Linked DNA regions of Homo sapiens. The protein of the gene in region 2 purifies or fractionates together with the protein of the main gene of each other region. This does not show direct contact. Each region holds a gene or a part of one and is shown on either strand. Other genes may lie near its edges.

Region 1 (4,177 bases), on a different chromosome or scaffold from region 2:
CATGAAAAGTTTGTTGAAAAGCTGTGGGAATTAGCAGAGAGAGTCTATATGGGAATACAGTTTTTACTAATGATTTTTTACTGATGATTTTACTAATGATTTTGCTAATCATCAGTAAAATTTTTACTAGTGATTTTGCTAATCATCAGTAAAATTTTTACTAGTGATTTTGCTAATCATCAGTAAAATTTTTACTGATTCATGTGAAGAGAAGAAACTTGGATATTTTATGAAGGAAAGAATATGGCCAAGAGGAGAAATTCTTCTCTGGGCTTCAGTTTATTTATCTAAAAACTGAAGGACTAGAATAAATAATTTCCAAATTTTTCTAGCTCTGAAATAAGACTTTAAAACCCTGACGGATGCTAAAATGGGCCTTTGACACCACTCCCCTACCCCACCCCACAAAGTACTATAGTTATTTTTAGTATCTGATGGTCAAGCTTCACAGAAAGCTCTCAGTTTGGTAACAAGGAAGTAGCTCTGAATTTTAACCCTGACACTTTTATTCAGGTAGGATGTATGAGAAAATTTTCTTTTCTTTTCTTTTTTTTTTTGAGATGGAGTTTTGCTCTTGTCACCCAAGCTGGAGTGCAATGGCGCGATCTCAGCTCACTGCTACCTCCACCTCCCAGGTTCAAGCAATTCTCCTGCCTCAGCCTCCTGAGTAGCTGGAATCACAGGCGCCAGCTACCATGCCCAGCTAATTTTTGTATTTTTAGTAGAGATGGGGTTTCACCATGTTCGCTGGGCTGGTCTGAAACTCCTCACTCAGGTGATCTGCCCACCTTGGCCTCCCAAAGTGCTGGGATTACAGGTATGAGCCACTGCGCCCGGTCCACTTTAGTTTTCTTACTCTTCTGCCACTTCACACATAAAATCATGGTAAACATTTAGCTTGGTGGATTTCCCATGGAATGAATCATTTTAGATGAAGGTTTATTCCTTTATGTAACTCAACTTTATGAATTTTTGATGAAACTTTTTCTAAAGTGAAATACATGCTCTATTTTTATACAAAATTTAGTAAGTACCATATAACCTTTTCTTGAAAAGAGTCATCACCAGTAAAATCAATTGCTATATTGTGTTGTAAACACAGTAATGTTCTTTCTACACAGATGTCTGCAAACTATGGCCTGCAGGATGTTCTTGTAAGGCTTGGGAGGTAAGAATGGTTTTTACATTTAAAAAATGTTGTTAAAAAAAAATGTGACCTTGACCACATACGGCTTGCAAAGCCTAAAATATTTACTATCTGGCCCTTTACAGAAAAGTTTACTTACTCTTGCTCTAGAAAAAGATGTACAGGCCTCTTCAACAAATGTCTCCAACTAGATTCAATTTTATGCTCTGTCACCAAAGGAAAGTATTTTTATCTTGGCACAGTGTCTGACAGAATAGTTCTAATATTTGTGGAAAAATAAAGGTCATTGGTATTTAAAATTCTTTTGTTGCTTCTTCTCGTTACACAGTCTCCTACTCATCCTCAAGTTTTCGTCAGTCACTATAACTGCCTCTAGCAGTCTCTTCTCTAACTCCCACCTTTCTAATCTCAGTGGAAATTTGGTAACACAGCTTATAAATATTTTAAGGTAAGGTTAAATTGGTTACATGAAGACCCTAGACCTATTTTCTGAGTAGAATACAGGTGGTTTGGTGCAGCAATTTGGTGACTTATTTTGATTGTCCCAAAGCCTTTTTGTTTAGTTCCACGTTCTCTATTACCCTTTGGAAAAGCAACATTTCAGGACGAATGAGGTGTTACTGTAGCATACCTGATCATTTTTATAACACAAAGTAGCATTACAACTGAAAAGATATTCATCAAAAGACTGAACTGCAGTAATTGGAGTGGTAGGATTTTCTTGGAATATCTGAATTTATTACTAATTTTACAGTGAACATACATTACTTTTGTAATCAGAAAAGCTACCTTAATTTAAAAAAAAGAAAAATCAGAAGGATCTGTCTACTCAATCTTACTGACCTAACTCAACAATTTTCATTTGGCATATTTTCTATCATAATTTGATCATCGTTTTCAGAGGTTGTAAATACTGTGTTTATGTTTTTATTTTGATTCATACTTGGCTTGCTGAAAAATACGCTGTAAATATAAAATACTGCAGTAATGCCGACAATCAACATGGTGAAAGGTGACAGTCTTTTTGATTTCTGCTCAACTCATTATTTTATACAATAAGCTCAGACGAATAATACCCAATTTGGATAATGTTACGCTTGACAAAACACTTTACTTCATTTAGTCCTCACAACAACCCTGTGAGGTAGGCACATTCTCGGAGGTAAAATGACGTGGGCAAAGTTCCCTGGCTCGTTTGGGGAAAGGCTCAGCAGCCGGGCCAAGAAAGGTCTTTGGGGGCGCAAGTCTTTGGAGGGCAGGTCTTTGGGGAGCGCTTTGAGTAATATTAGAGCTTTCACTAAACCCTGGCCTATTACGTCCCCTCCCCTGAGATTTACCTTTATATACTCAAGTTCTTTCATGCCAGGAAGGTAGGCTGAAGGCTTCGAAAACCTGCAGCTCATACCCAAAGCTAGCACTGTCTATCCCTGGAGACCCAGCGCCCAAAAGCTCCACTGGGCGCATAGCGCACGGCACGCCTCCTCCCCCGAGCCGCAGACTGAGTAACTGGCCCCGGACTAACCTGACCAGGTCGGTCATGCAGGAGCCCACCACTACCACCGCCGCCACCTCCTCTTGCCACTGCCTCTGGGGTTCCCCAGACGCCGCCATCGCTCAAAGGTGCTGCTGTCCAACCTGGACGGTGACCTCTGCCCTTTGCCCGACCCCGTAACCAGAGACGCCACTCCTGCCCTCCCTAACGACGCGGGCCTTTCAGACGCCTACGCGGGTCGCCCACCTGACTGCCCGAAATCACCCCGCCCACCAAGTGTCCCCTCTTCTTCCTGGAATAGTCTCGGTGCACAGCCTCACGTAACAGGGCCCTCCTGATATGGCGAGACTCCGCGCTCCTCGTCACTCACGGGGCAGGCGCTGAGGAAGGAACTGTCAGGCACCGCGGGGACGCCTTTCCGAGCGCCCGGCTCGGCGCGGCGCGGGGGCGCGCACGCCGCCCAGCTTCGGGGCCGCAGAGGGGGCGGGGCGGGACGTCCGGGGAGTGCGCACGCATCCTGCCCGCGGCGCGCGCGCAGGTCGGTGCGTCTGTCGGGGGCGCGCTCGGGTACCTGTACCCCACGTAGTCGCCGGTTACCGATCGGACTAAGTTCCAGGTACCTGGACTGGGGCTGGTGCGGGGAGGTTGGATCCCGAGTCGCACAGGTGGCGTGGAGAACTGTGGTTTAAATATGGCCAGGGGACTCGCCTCCTCTTCCTATGGAGAAGGCCCCCGTTCCAAAGATGCCCTTCTCATCCCCATCACGCTGATTCCCTCAAGAACGAGCCCCCAAGGCCAGAGGCGTCTCTTTCTCCATATCTGGCCCATCCCCTGGTTCCTGTAAACCCCGAGTATTAGTTCCTTGTTGCCTGATGAGGGGAATCATACAGTTTGGAAGAGGGGAGAGTGTCCCTTTTTAAGACGTCCCCTAGAGTGGGGTGGTCATTCTTCGGGTCTGAGCTAACTTGTTTTTCTCGAATGTTGCCCCTTGGGGGAAATTGCTTCCCCAGTGTAACTTCCCTCGTGCGCTGTATGACGTCGACGTGACGCAGCAGGATGCCACCCCTTTCCGTTCCATGACGTCAGCAGGGCACATGTTTCCGTGTTTGTCATCTCATTTTAATTGCAAGAACCTGGATGGTGCTTTAGACGTCTTTGTAATCCCCAGGCCTCTCATCAAAGGACCTTTTGTAACTTTATTTTGGGGTAGCAGACCCTTGCAAAAATTGTAATTTTGCATTTTCCTTTTGCAATACGTCAAAATCAGGAAATACAAATTGCAGTAGTAGTATTCAGGGGACTCTGACCACCGTAAATATTTGTATATCTGGGGTGTATTATAGTGCTGCCATGCGTAAGAGTTACTACCGGTGGTGACTCCCTGTCCATGTACCCGGTTCACTGCACCAAAGGACCAGTGTTTTTGGCTAAGTGACTTCTGATTTTGGAGTCATTGTGTTCCACTCCCCACCCCCCGCCCTTTTTTTTTAGAGAAGTCACACCTCCTCATGGTTGAAATAGATTTTAATACTGCGTGA
Region 2 (3,500 bases):
ATGCCCAATTAGATGAATGCCTAGTTGTATCTGCTTGTGCATATTGGTGTGTGCTCATGAGTGTAGGTGCATCTAAAGGGTGTGCTTGTGAGTGTTAAGGGCATATATGTGCATGTCCATGCATGTATGAGAGGGTGTATATGTGTGTGTGTATATATGAGTGTATCTGTCCTGCATTTGTGTAAGCAGGCTTTTGACTTTCTGTGAATGTCTGTATGTGGGTTCTCCAGCATTTTAAATTATATAGATGTCCGTGTGTGCATGTTCCAGTGTATATCACCTGTAGACAAACCTTTATGTCCACATCCGATTAGAGAAATGTTAATATAGGTGGGCACACTAATATAAGGAGAACTAATTTTATGGGTAGGGGAGAGTGTGTGAATGAAAATCTATTTTGTGGGTATGCCTACATGTGCACATTTGATTATGTATGTGAGTATGGCTGTGTGTGGGGGTGTATGCCTGTCTGCACACAAAAACACACACACACGCAAAATGCTGTGTGCATAGGTGAAATGATGCATTGTCTATATGTCTAATTGTGTTTGTGTGTACACTGTTATGTGTGAGTACATGTCTGTGGCGTGCATGAGTAGGTACTTGGGTGTGCATGTCTCATTATGTGTTTTGTCTGAATTTCTGAGTATGTGAGTGTGAATGTGTATTTGAATATGCCTGTGATTGTGAGTGTATATGTGGGTGTATATGCTAGTAGGTGTGAACATCTGGCTGTGTGTGTTTCATTGAACATGTCTGTATATGCCTGCCTGTCCATACACATATGTCCACACACATCTGTCCACACACACACGTGTGTGTGTGTGTGTGTGTGTGTGTGTGTGAATATGCCTGTGTGTATGCCTGTACATTCAGACAGGCATACACAGAGGTATATTCATATGTGTGAATGTGCCAGTTTGTACAGTTCTAATTATTTGCATGTATGTGTTTGTGTTTATGCATCTTTGTTCTGGAGCATATGTTGTAGAACACAATGTAAGGTAACGTCCATGCATGTCACTCTCAGCCTACAAGTGTGTTTAAGTGTGTGTGTGTGAGGATGTGTGTGAGGATGTGTGTGTGTCTGTGATGAGTGTGGATCAGTCCTTCTTGTATGGATGTACAGTTGTGTGCATGTGAGTGTACTTCCATGTGTACATGTGTGTGAATATACCTTTGTGTCCAAGTCCATCTGTGAGAATGTAGGTGTAAATGATTCCTCTTTATTGTGTAGCTTCTCATATGGGTGTATGAACTTGTAGGAATGTACATGGTGTACATATCTGGCTGTGATAGTGTGGGCATGTTTTGTGAGTACATTTGTATTTCCATGTCTGAGTGTAAGCATATGGGAATGAATTAATGAACAAGTCTATGTGCATGTGAACATGCCCAGTTGTGTGTACAAGTCTGTGTTAGGAATGTCTGCATATCTATACTTCATGTCATTTACAAGCATGTGCATATCTAGGTGTTTATGTGTGTGAGTGTGTAAATATATGTGGTCATGTCTGGGTGTGTGTGTGCACACATTTGGGAGCTTCCCTGTCTGTGTCCATGTTTGTTCATCATCTCCTTGGGTGTGATACAAAGTCTGTCTGTCTGTGGACATGTGAAGGTATGCCTGTATGTACCCCTGTGTTTGTGAGTGAATGTACGTCATTCATGGGCATTATGTCATGTGAATGTATGTCACGCATGCGTGCCTATGTTTAAGAGTAAATGGATGTACACGTATGACTAAGTACAGTGTGAGTGTGTCCATGTGTAAGGATGAGTGTAGGTATTTGTGCATGTGTCTGTCAGTCGATGTGAGAGAGAGATACTTGGCCTTGGGCCTGTGCGGATTGGGCCTTATTGACAAGGGGATGGAAAGGGAGAATACTTACAAGTCTGTGTACCTCAGTATGTATTTGTGTGTATGACTGAGAGTCAGTGGTGCCCTGCGAGACTATGTCTGTCTGTAAGTGTGTAGACATCCTGCAGATTGGCAAACTATGACACCTGATGCCTGTGACCCCCATTCTGGGGCTTCTCTGGCCTTGACCATGTACTGGGCTTTTGTGGGGGTCTCAGGATAATTCCTGTCATTATTCACACTCAAGAAGTGGGCACCAATCATGGCTGATGTCCTACTGGGGAAAAGAGGCCTATTTAGAAAAAGATTCCTTGAAACACAAAGACCTCCCTTCTCATCCCCCCAACCATCAAAGGCCCAGAGTAGAGTGGCATTGTATGATATCTAGGGTTGGTAAATAGTTTTCACTGAGAGGACCCAAATTATGCCATCCAGGCAGAAATCTAGATGTGAGTGTGTATATATAAAAGTGAAAGTATCTTAATAGAGTGTGTGTGTATGTGTGTGTGTGTGTGTGTAGACTGGTATATCTGGTGAGAGAGAAAGGATGTGGTCTGCATGTGTGTAAGAGAGAGCATGGGCCGGGTGCGGTGGCTCATGCCTGTAATCCCAGCACTTTGGGAGGCCAAGGCGGGTGGATCTCCTAAGGTCAGGAGTTTGAGACCAGCCTGACCAGTATGGTGAAACCCCATCTCTACTAAAAATACAACTGGGCGTGGTGGTGCATGCCTGTAGTCCCAGCTACTTGGGAGGCTGAGACAGGAGAATTGCTTGAACCCAGGAGGTGGAGGTTGCAGTGAGCCCAGATCATGCCACTGCACTCCAGCCTGGGCGACAGAGCGAGACTCCATCTAAAAAAAAAAAAAAGAGAGAGAGAGCACATGGGTGTATGGGTGTTTCTGGGTAGGGTGTGCGTGTGAGGCATTTGGGTGTGTTTGGGATTGGGGGGGTGAGTGTGGTTGTATGTAAAGTGGCCTGTGTGTGTGGAGGATGGTATGAGTGAGAGTTGGGTTGGGGATATGGGTGAGGATGTGTGTATTTGAGGGGTGTGTGAGTATGGGTTTATCTGGATGGTGAGATAGGGTGGGGGATACCTGGGTGGCGTATGTGTTTGCTGGTGTGGCTGTGTCTGTACTGTGTGTGTAAGAGAGTGTGGGTGTTTCCTGGGTGGAGTATGTATATGAGGGAGTATGGGTATATTGGGGTCAGGGAGATCCAAGTGTGGTTATATGTGGATGATATGTCAGTAGGTGAGAGCACAAGTGTATCTAGGCAATGGAAGTGTGTGATAGGGTGTATTGTGATGGTGTGCATGAGAAAGAGAATTTGGGCACATCTGGGTGAGGGTGGGGGTGTATATAATTGGGGGTGTCTATGGAGTGTGTGTATGGGTGGTGTGTGTGAGACAGTATGGATGTATCTGCATTGTGTGTGTGCAGTGTGAGTAGATCTGGCTGATGGTGATTAAGAGAGAATTGGGGGTCGAGATTGTGTTTGTGTGTGAGAGTGGGGGTGTTTCTGAGTGTGGTAGGGGTGTGAGCACGCATGTCTCCTGTGGGAAGAGCATGTATGTGTATCTGGATGAGGTGTGAGAGTTTGGGTTTAACTGGGTTGGAGGAGAGTGTGGATGTATCCAGAT
Region 3 (3,500 bases), on a different chromosome or scaffold from region 2:
CTGTGTTTACTTAACAGATTGAGTAGGTCTTAGAATTAGAACATGTAATTCATGAATGTGCTGTTGCCTAATTAAGTATGGCTAGTGTTTAGATTCTTGAGCCAGGAAGAAAAATAGAAAAGATTTAAGTATAGGTACATATGTATATACGCATGTATGTATGTATCTATCTACCTACTGGATGTATATTACTTTTAAGCTGTCTTTGCTCTTTAAAAAATAAGAGTGTGGCAAGACACAAAGATGACTTTTATATAAAGAAATACTTAAAAGTCCTTGCTTGCTCTCATATTCCCCAACTCTTTCTTCTATTGCAGAGTCAGTCAGCTACAGCAGTCATCCTGAATTGGGGTGGGAGGTTATGAGAATTCAACCCTATGCTTAACATGAATTAATCAGTGTCATTTTGATTCACTGACACCAGTAGTTTACAAATGAAGCTACTTATTACTATACCAATTATTCATAGTGTTAAATATTGTACCAGCTTTTATTCTTTAATCTTTCCCAAAAGAAAACACACACACACACACACACACACACACATAAAGAGAGGAGAGGATTAAATTAAAGGTGGAAAGAATATTATTCTCTTACATCAACTAGCTAAAGCTGAACATTAAAATCTGCTATGGTACTGAAGGTATTCAAAGCTATTTCTAAAAACCATTTTAGAGCAGGAGACAATACATTCTAAATTGGAAACAATAGAAAATCTAAGCGTTAAAGAACTGAGAATTTTCAATAGTCAGCTACTGTTTATTCAGAAAGATTGTAGAATAAGCTATTCTAATTAGATTTCTGATATATAATATAAATAAATTACTAATTTTCCAACAAAAATTATAACTTTGGATATAATCTTTCTTTAATAATCTAAAATATACTTAAGAATCTTTTAGTAGCTACTGTTTAAATTATTTGCATATCACCAATATCATGCCATAAAAAGCGTTCTTATCTGAGCTGTCAAGCTGTTTGAATTTATAGATATATAGGATCTACTGCTCTATACTATAAAATGTACAATGAGTATTTTTTGGCTCACTTTTTATAATTTCAAAAATAACCATATCCCTTGCTTATAACTAAAATCAGCAAGTTCTGCCACAGAACTCCACATCTCCTTTTTGGCAACTGTCACAATATATAGCTATTATTGTATTTTTACAGAACTGTTTGCCCAAGAGACAAGTTCCGGCAAGGCAGGAGGCATGTTTTTACATCATTAGATCATTTTTACATCATTAGAACTAGAAAAGTATTTGACTCATATGGACCCTCAATAAATATCTAAACAGAACAAGAGCATGTGAAAGAAAGAGTGTGTGCCTGCTAAAGAAAGAAGCCAAGCCAGGGAGAAAGGGGGAGCAGTTAAGGACAGAGAGTAAAAGACATAACAAGAGGCCTAAGAGACAGTACATGAAAGAAGATGGCTGTAAAAAGGACAGGGAGAGAGTGAGAGAAACTGCACCGGAAAGGGAGAGCTCAGGGAAGGAGAATCAGTGAAGGAAGGAAAGAGAGACTTGGAAAGGGAGACAAAAAAGAAATAGAGCTAAAGAAGTTAAGAGAAGAGGAGGAGGAGAGATTGAGCCTGACAGATAAAGGGTTAAAAGGTAAAGGAAAAGAGCAGGAGAAAACAAAGAATAAGACAGGAAAGGTATAGGGGGACAGAAGAAGGAAGAGAGAGGAAAAAAGAGCATGAGCACAAGCCCAAGCGACAAGAAGCAAAGACAAGAGAAGGAAAAGGGAGTTCAGGAGAAGATAAGAGAGAGTAAGAGGCTGAGGAAGGGAACAAGAGTGAGAGACAGAAAATATGAGAGACAGATGAAGAAGGAAGAGAATGTAAAAGAGCACTCACAGGGGAAATGAAGAGAAGAGGAGGAAAAGGACAGAGGGGAAGAATTAGTAAGAAAGCAGAAGAGAGAGGGAATAGGAAAGACAAAGGGGTGGGGAAGAGAAAGAAACAGAGTATGCATCCTGAGCTCTGCTTACACATATATATAGCTATACTGCAAAATATTCTATGAACTCAAAAAAGGAAACACTCAGGCAGTGTAATCAAATAATGAAAAATCCACTGCTTCCTCCAATCAGAGGTGGCAGAAATCAAATTATGCCTCTAAGATGATCCAATGTAGTCCCTTCAGCATACAGATGCTCTACAAATATTTGATTAATTGTCCAACTCGGCAAGCATATAAGAACTGTTACATAAAAGCAGAGCTAAAGAACATAATATAAAACCATATTAGAAAATGATTTTAAATAAATCAACAGCAAAGTATCCATTCAAAAAGAAAAAAGCAAAAGCAAAAAAAAATCCTATTTTCATATACTAAAACTTTCTTCTTCAAAAAAAAGTTGAGAAATTCCTCTATATGGTAACAATCTCAACAAATTACTGTAGATTCCAATTATATACTATTCAAAAACTCATCCATGAAGTCATGAAAGTGGTTACCCTTGGGGAGGTAGGAACTCGAAGAGGCCTGAGTGGGGGCTTCAAAGATTCAAAAGTTACACCTGTGTTCAATTGGTAACAAGTCACTGAGCTTAAGATTAGTGTTTTTTTGTGTATATCTTATACTTCAATAAAAAGATTTTTTTTCTTAAAGTCTTACCCATAGGAGAAAGCATCATTATCTCTCCATTTTGAAATAACAGAAGCTGCCAGTCCAGCCAAAATGGCAGTGCTATCGAAAAACATGTGAAAAGAGTCGGAAATCAAGCCTAAGCTGGAAAAGAACAAACACATTGACAAATTATAATAAAAACCAAACAGTAGGCATCTTTCTCTGAAAGTCTAAGATTCAGCCTTTGTTCATCAGGAATTAACCATCTAAAACAACAATTTAAATATGCTATATAGATAGCTTTGAGGATAAGTTTTAAATATCTAAAAAGTAAACCCTCGTACCTCCTGCACAAGGAAAAGCCCAGCTGCTGCGAGAGAGGTAGAAACAAAAACCATCTGCTGCTGGGTGAGGGGTAGGAATGTGACCACTCCTTGGTCACTTGCAAAGGTCAGCTGCCACTGAAAGAGAGGTAGGAAAAAAAAAGCCATCTACTACTGGGACGAGGCTGATACCTGCTTGCACCCAGGATCTTACAAAGCAAAGGTCTGCTTTTGTTGAGTATCCTGCTCCACCCTTTTGATACCAGGCTGAGGACAGTGGGGACAGGCTGGGAGAGAGGGAGAGCGGCAAGATCATTAATACTCACCCTGACACTGAGGTGCACAGGCTTGCCTGACTAGGGATACAACAAGAGAACCTAGTCCCACCCTCCCCACCAAGTCTTGAATAAAGTATAAGGAACAGCAAACTACCAGTGAGAGCACAAAGAGATATGTGCAGAACTTGCTAAAAGCTGAGAGTGGAGCAAGAACCCTGAAAAAATCCTGCAGTACTCCAAATCCAATACTAATCACAAAGTAGTAGGAACCACTGAAAAATTCAAAGACTGTGATTTGTGGAAATCAGCAATAACAAAACACA
Region 4 (3,500 bases), on a different chromosome or scaffold from region 2:
TGGAGGCTGGGAAGGCAGACAAGGAGCTGTCCTCTGCAAGGCATGTGCTCTGAGAGGATGGAGACAGGCAGATACAGCACGCCGGGTCACCCTCTGCAAATACAGTTTCCCAGATGTGATGATGCCCTCCTACTCCCGGAACCCCTGGTCCTGCGTCTTCTTCATCGTGTACCTCTCCATCGAGCTGTATTTCATCATGAACCTGGTGAGTGACTATGCCTCAGGCTACGCTGAAGCAGCCTGCCCCTACCCATGCAGCACTAGGCACTGTGGGAGTGGAGAAGTGGGGACTGTCTTCTGCCTCTCAGGGCAGAACGTTGGGGCAGGAAGTCCCAGATTCATAGTCAGGTGCGGTGTTGCAGGGAATGCCCTGTCGGGACTTCAGGAGTTCAGCCAGTTGCTGGGGGTGGCGTCCTCACCAAGGCAATGCTGCTGATGCTGGTAGTGCTGGATGTGAAACCCAGGCAACCCTGGGACCTTTTCATTCTTACATCAGAAATAAGCAGTTGACCCTCGGTGTCCACAGGGATTGTTTGCAGGACCCCCTGTAGGTACAAAGATCCACAGATGTTCAAGTCCCTTATATAAAATGGCAGAGTATTTGCAGATAACCTGTGTACATTCATCCTCTCATATATTTTAAATTATCCTGCATTACCTATAACACCTAATACAATGTAAAAGCTATGTAAATAGTTGTTATACTGGGCTGGACATGGTGGCTCACGCCTGTAATCCCAGCATTTTGGGAGGCCAAGGTGGGTGGATCATTTGAAGTCAGGAGTTCGAGACCAGCCTGGCCAACATGGTGAAACCCTGTCTCTACTTATGAAAATTAGCTGGGCGTGGTGGTGGGTGCCTGTAATCCCATCTACTCAGGAGGCTGAGGCAGAAGAATTGCTTGAACCCAGGAGGTGGAGGTTGCTGTGAGCCGAGATCATGCCGTTGCACTCCAGCCTGGGCAACAGCACGAGACTCTGTATCAAAAAAAAAAAATTGTTATACTATATTGTTTAGGGATAATGACAAGAAAAAGAAGGCTGTACATGTTCAGTACAGATACAACCATCCTTTTCTTTTTGGAATATTTTTGATTTGCGGTTGGTTGAATGCATGGATGGAGAACCCACAGATAAAGAAGGCCAAGTATATTATAATAACCATAAAAGCTGGCATTTAGTAAGCCTTAGCCACTTGGCACTATGCAAAGTGCTTTACATATGAGGATGAAATAATTTAATAAATAAACACAACCGTGGAGGTAGTGAGTATGGTTCTCCATGTGCAGATGAAGAGACTGAGGGTCAGAGTGACAGTGTGATTTGCCCATGGCTACATAGCTTGGAGTGGCCAGGCCAGGCTCATCCCAGAGCCCTGTTCCTAACCACTCTGTTCAGTTGCACTCACGTGCCAGAAATGTCTTGTGTATTTCTACCTCACTTATCAGGAACCATCAGAAAATCCAGTATAGAACACGTTCTGTGAAGGAGAACGTAAAGCCTCTGTGCTCAAAGAACTTTGAGGGTGTTTGTGGAGGTGTGGACAGCCTCCAGGAGTGTCCCAGCCATCACAGATCACATCCGACACCAGGCTGTTAGGCCGGTGCCCAGACCACACATCCATGGCAGAGCTAACGGGGAGAGGCTTCCGATCGAGTCCTGTGTTTATTTTTATGCTTCTGCAGAGCATTCTCACACCAGTCACCACAGTCAGGCCCAGTATAGAAATGAAAATCATCTTTTCCAGGTAGACTTGTGAAATCTAAAAAATTTTAAGTCCTTTTCTCTTTTTTGAGATGGAGTCTCGCTCTGTCACCCAGGCTGGAGTGCAGTGGCGCAATCTCAGCTCACTGCAACCGCCGCCTCCCAGGTTCAAGCGATTCTCCTGCCTCAGCCTCCCAAGTAGCTGGGACTACAGGCACATGCACATGCCGCCACACCCGACTAATTTTTGTATTTTTGGTAGAGACAGGGTTTTGCCATGTTGGTCAGGCTGGTCTCGAACTCCTGACCTCAGGTGATCCGTCCGACTCAGCCTCCCAAAGTGCTGGGATTACAGGTGTGAGCCACAGTGCCTGGCCAAAATTTAAGTCTTAAAAAGGAGAAAATATTTCCTTTTTTTTTTTTTGAGACAGAGACTTGCTCTGTTGCCCAGGCTGTAGTGCAGTGGCGCGATCTCGGCTCACTACAACCTCCGCCTCCTGGATTCACACCATTCTCCTGCCTCAGCCTCCCGAGTAGCTGGGACTACAGGCACCCGCCACCACGCCCGGCTAATTTTTTTTGTAGTTTTAGTAGAGATGGGGTTTCGCGCTTTGTTAGCCAGGATGGTCTCAATCTCCTGACCTTGTGATCCACCCGCCTCGGCCTCCCAAAGTGCTGGGATTACAGGCCACCGTGCCCGGCCTGAGAAAATATTTTCTTGTTTTAATTCCTCAAAACCAAGAAGAAATATGTTGAGTACTTCTTTGTATTTGATTTAATTCATAATATATTTAGAGCTGTGAAAATTTAGGGCAGCAGTCAACAAAGTACGACCTGCTGGCCAAATTTGGCCCATGGCCTGTGTTTGTAAATAAAGTTTCATTGGGACAGAGTCATGCCCATTTGTTCATGTATAGTCTGTGGCTGATCTCATGATATGACCACAGGTTAGTAGTCGCAGCAGAGATCATTTGGCCTTCACAGCCTAAAACAGTTGCTGTCGAACCCTTTACAGAAAAAGCATGCTGACCTTTGATCCACAGGGAAAAAATGGGGGACCAGTTTGAGGGAAAGGACCAGAGAGTTTCCCTTAAAACATTTTTAAAGACAGAGAAAGTGTTTCTAAAAAGGATTCTTTCAAGTTCTTCCCCGGCCTTCCATCCCCCTCTGATAAGCTAACTTTTGGTATTAGCCAACTCTAGAACGTTATTTCCTTGCATGCAGAGCCTCTCACTCCCCTTTTTCCTGGGCCACACGTGAAGCAGTGACTCACAAGGAGAAGTAACAAAGGGGCAGGGGGAGGAAGGGTCCTTCTGGATCGGAGGTCAGGAGGGCAGTGGGCAGGCAGCCTCCGCCTGCCACTGGCTGGAGTCGGACTGGGCTCAGAATCCAGATGCGCCCCTCTTGCTACTCTCTCCTCCCCTGGCTTGCCCCTGCGCAGCCTGGGACAAGCTGTAGCTGGAACTGGGGAAAGGAGTGTGGGAAAGTGGAGGGGAACCTGGGAAAGATGGAGTAACAATGCCTTCATGTATCTGAAGAGGGAAATTTACAAGCGGAACAAAGGGCCTTCCTCTGTTGAGACTTGGGAGACTGACTTCCTACCCCATGAGGTGCAGGCGAGAGGGTCTCCCCAGGGCCTCTCTGGGGTGACTGGGTAAGAGCCTTGCCTAGATGATGAACTCATACCCCCCTGCACTCCCTGCCCTAACCACTCAAGGTCCTGAGCTAGGGCTCTGTGCTTCTCTCCCACAGCTTCTGGCTGTGGTGTTCGACACCTTCAATGACATTGAGAAACGC

The links.
Region 1: the proteins of GPR173 (region 2) and RBKS purify together in Homo sapiens (affinity purification with mass spectrometry; one large-scale study listed by BioGRID and IntAct). This does not show direct contact.
Region 3: the proteins of GPR173 (region 2) and SLC30A7 purify together in Homo sapiens (affinity purification with mass spectrometry; one large-scale study listed by BioGRID and IntAct). This does not show direct contact.
Region 4: the proteins of GPR173 (region 2) and TPCN1 purify together in Homo sapiens (affinity purification with mass spectrometry; one large-scale study listed by BioGRID and IntAct). This does not show direct contact.

Annotation. Positions count from the first base shown.
Region 1 is NC_000002.12:27,887,588-27,891,764, forward strand, and holds the start of RBKS (ribokinase), read right to left. Parts: upstream 2,801-4,177; 5' UTR 2,759-2,800; coding exon 2,670-2,758; exon of another isoform or gene 1,869-2,669; intron 1,169-1,868; exon of another isoform or gene 1,122-1,168; intron 1-1,121. UniProt on the Homo sapiens protein: Catalyzes the phosphorylation of ribose at O-5 in a reaction requiring ATP and magnesium. The resulting D-ribose-5-phosphate can then be used either for sythesis of nucleotides, histidine, and tryptophan, or as a component of the pentose phosphate pathway.
Region 2 is NC_000023.11:53,051,789-53,055,288, forward strand, and holds part of GPR173 (probable G-protein coupled receptor 173), read left to right. Parts: intron 1-3,500. UniProt on the Homo sapiens protein: Is a receptor for the SMIM20 derived peptides Phoenixin-14 and Phoenixin-20. It mediates the Phoenixin-14 and Phoenixin-20 augmentation of gonadotropin-releasing hormone (GNRH) signaling in the hypothalamus and pituitary gland.
Region 3 is NC_000001.11:100,906,090-100,909,589, reverse strand, and holds part of SLC30A7 (zinc transporter 7), read right to left. Parts: intron 2,739-3,500; coding exon 2,625-2,738; intron 1-2,624. UniProt on the Homo sapiens protein: Zinc ion transporter mediating zinc entry from the cytosol into the lumen of organelles along the secretory pathway.
Region 4 is NC_000012.12:113,273,464-113,276,963, forward strand, and holds part of TPCN1 (two pore channel protein 1), read left to right. Parts: intron 1-105; coding exon 106-205; intron 206-3,455; coding exon 3,456-3,500. UniProt on the Homo sapiens protein: Intracellular channel initially characterized as a non-selective Ca(2+)-permeable channel activated by NAADP (nicotinic acid adenine dinucleotide phosphate), it is also a voltage-gated highly-selective Na(+) channel activated directly by PI(3,5)P2 (phosphatidylinositol 3,5-bisphosphate) that senses pH changes and confers electrical excitability to organelles.